2 linked regions of the Homo sapiens genome follow. The protein of the gene in region 2 interacts with the protein of the main gene of each other region in a pairwise test. Each region holds a gene or a part of one and is shown on either strand. Other genes may lie near its edges. The genes, in order: AXIN2 and ZNF124.

Region 1 (3,919 bases), on a different chromosome or scaffold from region 2:
AGGATAATTCCTGCTCTTCCGCCCCAACTATTTATATTAAACCTGACACCAAATCAGTAAGGACACAAACAAGTCGTTAAAAACGAGGCTCCTTTGAGTGCCCGAGGTAAACACAGGGCTTGCAAGCCTGGCCAGTGCCCCAGGCATCCGGCTGCCAAGACCGCTCCTCAGCAGCTGATGAAGAAAGACCATCCTCAGCAGCACTGACGTTTCTGTTCCATTCATTTTACTAACTTATTAAGCCCATCCCAGATGCCAGGTACTCTGCAGAATGAGTGAGTGTGCGGGAGAGGGAAGGGGGGAACTTAAACCTTAGATGGGATCTCTACATTCCAAGAACTAGCTGGAAAAACAGACTTCAGTTCAATAAGAAAGTTGAGGCATGGGGGTCAGGGGGCCACTCTAAAACCTTACAATGGAAAATGGGCTAAGCCAAGAGTCACCCTTTAAAAGTGACATCCCAACCTGGTTGTCCTATTTACATCATCATTACTAATTATACTAATTATAACACTTTGCGGCGGTTCAAAACGTTTCTCTCTACAAAAGGCTTTCATGTTTATTATTTTGGTCCTAATAACAATCCTATGACACAGACAGAAGGAATGGTGCCCACCCATTTTACAGATGGGCACATGCCATTCAGAAAGGCTTCAACACCCAAGCAGTAAGTGGTGGACCGGGCTGGAATGCAAGCCTTTGAATAAGGAGTCAGCAGACCTTTCCATACACTGTGCACACACTCGAATATCTTGCACGTTAAAATGATGTGAGATCATCTGGCTATGTCTTAAATTCTCTTTAAATATGCCCAGTTAAGACATATGAGCTTCAGAGAGTCCTTTAAGATGCTTCATCTCAACCCAACAGTGGGAGAAGGCACACGTGAATCTCGTATGGAAACTCTCAGGTCAATGACAAGCTGTCACCTCTTTATCAGTGATGTCCACGGTTCACAGCCAAGAAGGCAGCCCTGGAAAACAGGAGCTTCTGTCCCTGCCTTCTGGATCTCAAAAGCTTCATGAGTTGCATCCTGGTAATATCCCAGATGAGGCAAGCCCAGGCTGAGTCGCAACTGCCCACCCACAAAGGGGAGGGTTCACAGCAGAGCCCTGCCTGGGGAGGGCGTCCAAAACCACACACTGTGCTATTTACGAAGGTGACACTCTGGTCCCGGCAGTGGGAGACACAGAAGCCCCAGTCAGGAGGCCCCTGGAGAAGCAGCCTTTACCACGGCTCTTAAGTAGTCTCAGCTCTGGCTGCCAGGCTAGAGGGCAAGGAGGCCAGCGCCAGAGGCTTACCCAAATGGTCTCATAATGGGGCGGGCAGGCGTAGCAGGTGCCCGGCGACTGACCTACTGCAGAGGCCAGACCCAGGATCTTCCTCCCAGACAACTTGACTCCACAAGCATAAAGACACTGAAACACCTCCCTGGAACCTGTGTTTCCTTGCAAAAGTCAACCTGGTTCCACTTAGGTGTAGACCAGATGTCTGAGTAAAACTGGTTCCCAAGCCACAAGCGCGCCCCCTGGTGGTTGGAGAACAAGCCCTTCCTCTCCTCGCCAACAGTCAACTCTCTCTGCCGCCCCTAAAATCATGGCCCGCTAGGCTCAGACCTGGCCACCCTGAGAGGCTCAAGATCAACCATCTGGTGCCCACCTCTCTTCCTGCTGCTGGGCACTAGAGACCACATCCTACAGAGAAAGGGAAATCCAGAGGCAGCTATCAGACCGCATCCTGGGCCCCTAACACACAGAGAAATTCACACAGAGAGCAAGATAAATCATTCAGAGAGCAGTCAAGTGCAGCCCCATCCCCTGCCTGTCATAAAACCACACCCCGGAATTAAGAGGCTCATTCTCTTTTCGGATATTTGGAAGTCGGGAGGAGGGGAGAAAACAGAAAAACTCATTCTAACAAGAGGTCTGAAGTTGCCTCCAAAGGTCAAGAATCTTAAGACTTGGCCATTCTGCAAAGAACTATTTGTCTTTGAAGCCTCAAAGAGAAAGTACTCCAGGGCCCCAGTACTCCCGGGCCAAGATCTCTTCTCCATCAGCACTAACAAAATAATCAACTGAAGTCTGACCCTCGGACTCATGAGCATTTAAAACCTGGATTAATATGCCAGCAAGCTCTAAAGGTAAGGGTCCTTCATTTGGGAAAGTCACAGGACCTTCCCTAGTTAGAGGCCTTTCTTGCTGGGTAAATATCTAATTCTACAAAGGGAACCACAAGCTCAGTTAAGCCAATTGCTGGCTCTTATCTTAACAGAAAAGTTCAAAAAAAAATCCCACTTACCCCTCAATGGGTGCACATATTATTTCCTGTGCCTCCACCACAACCCAGCTGCCTCCCTAGCCACATTAATTCCACCCTCTACTGATTAGTGGTGAAGTGACCCCTTCCAAAACCGGCGCTTAGTGGATCTGGTGACTCAGAGGCATCAAAAGCTGCTGTCCTCTCTCTCTCTCTCAACCTCTTCTGAGACACTAGCCCGGGATAATAAGTAACCCACATTAGTGAATACTGCTTGCCACTGTTTGAAGTCAGCACTGGAAGACTGCAGGTATTTACTGTATGTGCATCGCTTTCCCCCTGTTTCAACAACAAAAAGCAAGATCAAAAAGGGTTCATGGCCAGCAGTCCTAACTCAACAGACCTGTCAGTCTCTGCAGCACACCCATCCACCCATCCACCATACTTAAAACATCTGCAAAGTCCACAGCATCAGCCCACCCGCCCCCGTCAAAGTCTTACCTGTATCCACTGTCAACAGTTTCCGTGGACCTCACACTCGCCGTGGCCCTCAGAGTTTTGCTGGACAAGCCAACCACGGTTGGCGAAAGTTTGCACTTGAAGTCGGCACAAGTCCACTCCTCTTCTTCATTCAAGGTGGGGAGATAGCCACACACGACCTTTAGGCTCCCGAGTCCCCCATTACTCATGTAAGCTGTGTTTTCTCCCCCACTCCTCACATATTCGAGGTATATATCAGAAGTCAAAAACATCTGGTAGGCATTTTCCTCCATCACCGACTGGATCTCGGTCTGCGCCTGGTCAAACATGATGGAATCAATCTGCTGCTTCTTGATGCCATCTCTTATGTAGGTCTTGGTGGCAGGCTTCAGCTGCTTGGAGACAATGCTGTTGTTCTCAATGTACCTTTTGTAGATCGCTTTGGCTACTCGTAAAGTTTTGGTATCCTTCAGGTTCATCTGCCTGAATCCATTGCAGGCAAACCAGAAGTCTAAGGTATCCACGCATTTCTCCCTCTCCAGGAAAGTTCGGAACAGGTAAGCACCGTCTTGATCGCCCAATAAGGAGTGTAAGGACTTGGTCCACCGGGTCAGAGGGGAATCCGGAGATGCCCGCCCCTCCGGCTCCCCCAACCCATCTTCGTTCCGCCTGGTGTTGGAAGAGACAGGCATGGGTTTGGTGACCTGGCCCTTGCCCACCCCTGGCTGACACGGTGGGGTCTCCCCTTCTTCCCCTGGCACTGGGGGCCGCGGGGCATCCTCACGGAAGCTGCTGCTGGGGTCCGGGAGGCAAGTCACCAACATAGCGCTACTCATGGTGAGGGAGCTCTTCCCACTGAGTCTGGGAATTTTTCTTCTTCCAGTTCCTCTCAGCAATCGGCGTGGTCTCTCTGTCTCTCTCAAGTCAGCAGGGGCTCATCTGAACCTCCTCTCTGGAAAGAAAAGGAAGGGGGGAGGTGGGGAGAGAGAAAAGGGTATTGATCTAATCAAAACCAGATCTACCCAACATCAAAGCAAGAAAGTAAACAGGCTTTTCAACTCCTCAAATTCAAATCAAGCAACCCAGCTATCTGCGAGGTGCTCATCTAAAGTATCAGGCGCTGCTTTTCAAAAGCGAAATCTGAGCTCCCTGCACACTTTTCGGGGTTGGGGGTGGGAGGGAG
Region 2 (3,919 bases):
TTCTGCCATGACTGGAAGCTCTCTGAGGTCCTCATCAGAAGCAGATGCTGGCTTTATGCTTCTGATAAAGCCTGCAGAACCATTAGCCAAATAAAACTCTTCCTTATAAATTACTCAGCCTAGGTATTCCTTTATAGCAATGCAAGCAGACTAAAACAATACTGTTTTCAAGTGAACTATTTTGCAAACATTTAACATCCATGTTACATTGAAGTATATATTTTTGGTAAAAACTTTGAGAATAAATTGATGTTGTCTTAATTTATTTTGTTTGCTTGGTTTTTTTTTTTCCCCGAGATGGTGTTTTGCTCTTGTTTCCCTGGCTGGAGTGCAATGGCACAACCTCAGCTCATTGCAACCTCCGCCTCCCAGGTTCAAGCAATTCTCCTGCCTCAGCCTCCCAAACAGCAGGGATTACAGGCATGCACCATCACACTGGGCTAATTTTGTATTTTTAGTAGAGACGGGTTTTTGCCGTGTTGGTCAGGCTGGTCTCAAACTCCTGACCTCAGGTGATCCGCCCACCTCAGCATCCCAAAGTGCTGGGATTACAGGTGTGAGCCACCATGCCTGGCCTTGTTTGCTTTAAACATATGATTATATACTACAATTGACCCCAAGGGGGACTGCTTCCTCTTGTGAGGGCAAATTACCTTAGATTTCTTGAAGAATTTTTGTACTGATCTTCAATGCTCTGGTCTTCCCCTTTGTTTCCTAAAATGTAGACCCAGAAATATATTACAAATTATTTGAAATTATAGAAAAATTACTAGACTCTAGGTGCTATGTTGGGGATATGGTTTGTACCCACCAAAATGAATGCTGTAATTTGGTCATCAATATGGCAACATTGTTTGTGTTATGGGTACAGATTCCTTATTAATAGATTAATGTCCTTGCTTGGGAATGCATGTTTTCTCTTACTCTTGCAAGACTGAATTAGTTGCCAGAGGGCAGGTTGTTATAAAAGCAAGTTTAGCTCCCAAGAATTGCTCTTATTTTCTTGCTGTGATCCCTTTGCACATGCCCACTTGCTTCTGCTTCATGCCCTGAGCTGAAGTAGCATCAGGTCCTTACCAGATGCAACCTTGGACTTTCTAGCCACTAGAATCATAAACCAATATAAAACTATTTTTGTAAATTACCCAGGATCAGGTATTCTGTTATCACAATTAAAAAATAGACTAAGAAACAAGAGTCATTGCACACTGGGTCCATGCCTCATTCACTCATCAAAGTGTTCCCTTTGTACATTCCAAATCATGGAATGACATTGAAAACCATGAAACACTTACTTTCTGATTGACTAAGTGAAGAAATATTGTGATTCTTACCTATGGAAGCCAGATTCCTGAAGGTTTCCTGCATCACGTCTCTATAGAGATTCTTCTGGGAAGGATCCAACAAAGCCCACTCCTCCTGGGTGAAGTTCACAGCCACATCCTCAAAGGCAACCGAGTTCTAAAATATTCCACATTTTTGTAGAGGATGGATGAGACTGAAAGCACTGGAAATCTGTAGTCAATTTATAAGATGTTCATCTGATTCTGTGGCGAACATTTATTCTACTATTTGGTCACTAGAACTATGACTCTGTCTACACTTCCTTTCTCCCACATAGCAGTTCTTTTTTTTTTTTTTTTTTTTTTTTTGAGACGGAGTCTCACTCTGTTGCCAGGCTGGAGTGCAGTGGCACCGTCTCAGCTCACTGCAATCTTCGCCTCGCAGGCTCAAGTGATTCTCCTGCCTCTGCCTCTCAAGTAGCTGGGACTACAGGCACATGTCACCACGCCCAGCTAATTTTTGTATTTTTAGTAGAGACAGGATTTCACCATGTTGGCCAGGATGGCCTCGATCTCTTGACCTCGTGATCTGCCTGTCTTGGCCTCCCAAAGTGCTGGGATAACAGGCGTGAGCCACCGCGCTCAGCCAGCAGTTCTTATGCTAAAGTTGAACTGTTCAGCAAGGCAGCAGCAGAGAAGGAACACCCTTCTTGTTGGTGGGTCCAGGGAGTAATATTTGCTGTTATGATTTTTCTTTATAGCATATACCTGCAGTACATATCATATCAAAGTCTTACTATCTGGTGTGCATAAGAGAGTTAATATGAGCCGTCACAAGACTACTTACCCTTAGAAATACCTGCTACAAAGTTCAACCTTTGCTGGTATGAGGGAACTTACATTTTAAGAGGCATCCCAACAACCTAAGTGATAAAAGTAGCTCACTGTTGCTAAATAGTTTATCTAAACAATCTGGTATTTGCTGAACCCCTGTTTTCCTTCCAAAAGTCTATTATTTTGTTTTATTGTAGCAGTGGTGCCTAGGGGGATCAGCCTCAATAAACAAACAAAAACACACTCTGAGCACTGAGTATCTGATGAGCTTCCCTGGTAGATAATATTTCATATATGATGTCACAACTTTTTAATTGGGAAATTGAGCCCAATCCACGTGGTTACACAAAGAGAAAATGTGTAGAAGCTTATAAGTGCTTCACTCAAGCCCAAATTTAATCAAGAGGTAATTAACACTAATAATCAATATTCAATAATCCAAAAATAATTATTTTACAATTTCTACTGAAAAATGTCAAAGCAGAATAGAATAAGTGAAAAGGCATGCGTTCAAAGAAAAAAACTCAATGTCATCTAGATGTCACCTCTTACAAATGATATTTATGTAAAATTTCATAGATGCCTGAAACAGACTTTCTAGCAGTTCAGCAGAAACTACTTTTCAAAACCTACAGAAATAACAAACGCCTAACAACCGTCAAAGTCTTCTGAATAACAGTGTGATGGTTTGCCTAATACACATCAATGATTTTCAAATATAATATTCAGGGCAGTGTAGTATAAGCAGAGAGATAAAGAACTAGGCCAAGAGAAAGGCATATAGTCTTTAATTAGCTGGAATTGATATGGAAAGCTGACTAATAACAGAGGAGGCATTGTAGGATAGTGAAGGAAGTATCAAGCACTTTAAACATGGAACAAAGCTAACCGGTATTTAATTGGGAAAAAAATGAATTGCATTGACCTCTATTAGTTGGACAATAATCAATTTGTCATATATTCAAAAGTAAAAAGTATAAATAGACCACTTGCAGAAGTCACAGACAAGGTTTTTTTTGACATATGAATAGGAGAAAAGGAGCAAACAATAGAGACTGACAAATTCAAATATATTAAAATTAGGAGAATTAAAAGACAAAAAACAGTAAAATAAAAATCTGCAATACATGCAATATAAAAGAAATTAGTGTGCACAGTAAAAATGAATGAAAACATGATTAAAAAATGGGAAAAAAAAGCAAAAGATACATAACAAGAAAAAAGACCATTTATGGAAAGAGATCCATTTTCTTGGTAATAAAACAGCCAAATAATATGGCATATTACTATAATAATAATAGTAAATAATAGTCCACATTCTTTAGAAGAACAAAAATTAGAGAATCTCAAGTGGTGATTACCACACCAAATAAATACGCAGAAATGAAGGCCAAGGCAGTGGATATACTCCATTGCTATTTCCAGTAATTTGAACTTTACCACAATCTACAGTCCAGTAATTTTTCTCTAATGTCCAGAAAATTTATTGTGCATTATCAGAGTTTATATTCAGCATTCTTAAGGAAAAGAAATTCCAACCATGAATTTCCCATCCAGCCAAAAGAAGCTTCATAATCATTTTCAGACAAGCAACTACTAAGAGAATTTGTTCCCACTAGATCTGCCTTATAAGAGTTCCTAAAGGTAGTGCTAAATATGGAAAGATCATTAACAGCCACCACAAAAACACACGTAAGTACATAGACCAGTGACACTATAAAGCAAGCATACAAACAAGTCTGCATAATAACTAGCTAACGACACAATAACAAGATCAAATCTACACATATGAATAGTAACCT

Evidence for each region.
Region 1: the proteins of ZNF124 (region 2) and AXIN2 interact in binary tests that used the Homo sapiens proteins (3 or more experiments, as listed by UniProt).

What each region holds. Positions count from the first base shown.
Region 1 is NC_000017.11:65,555,049-65,558,967, forward strand, and holds part of AXIN2 (axin-2), read right to left. Parts: intron 3,689-3,919; 5' UTR 3,573-3,688; coding exon 2,758-3,572; intron 1-2,757. UniProt on the Homo sapiens protein: Inhibitor of the Wnt signaling pathway. Down-regulates beta-catenin. Probably facilitate the phosphorylation of beta-catenin and APC by GSK3B.
Region 2 is NC_000001.11:247,158,353-247,162,271, forward strand, and holds part of ZNF124 (zinc finger protein 124), read right to left. Parts: intron 1,462-3,919; coding exon 1,335-1,461; intron 715-1,334; coding exon 654-714; intron 1-653. UniProt on the Homo sapiens protein: May be involved in transcriptional regulation.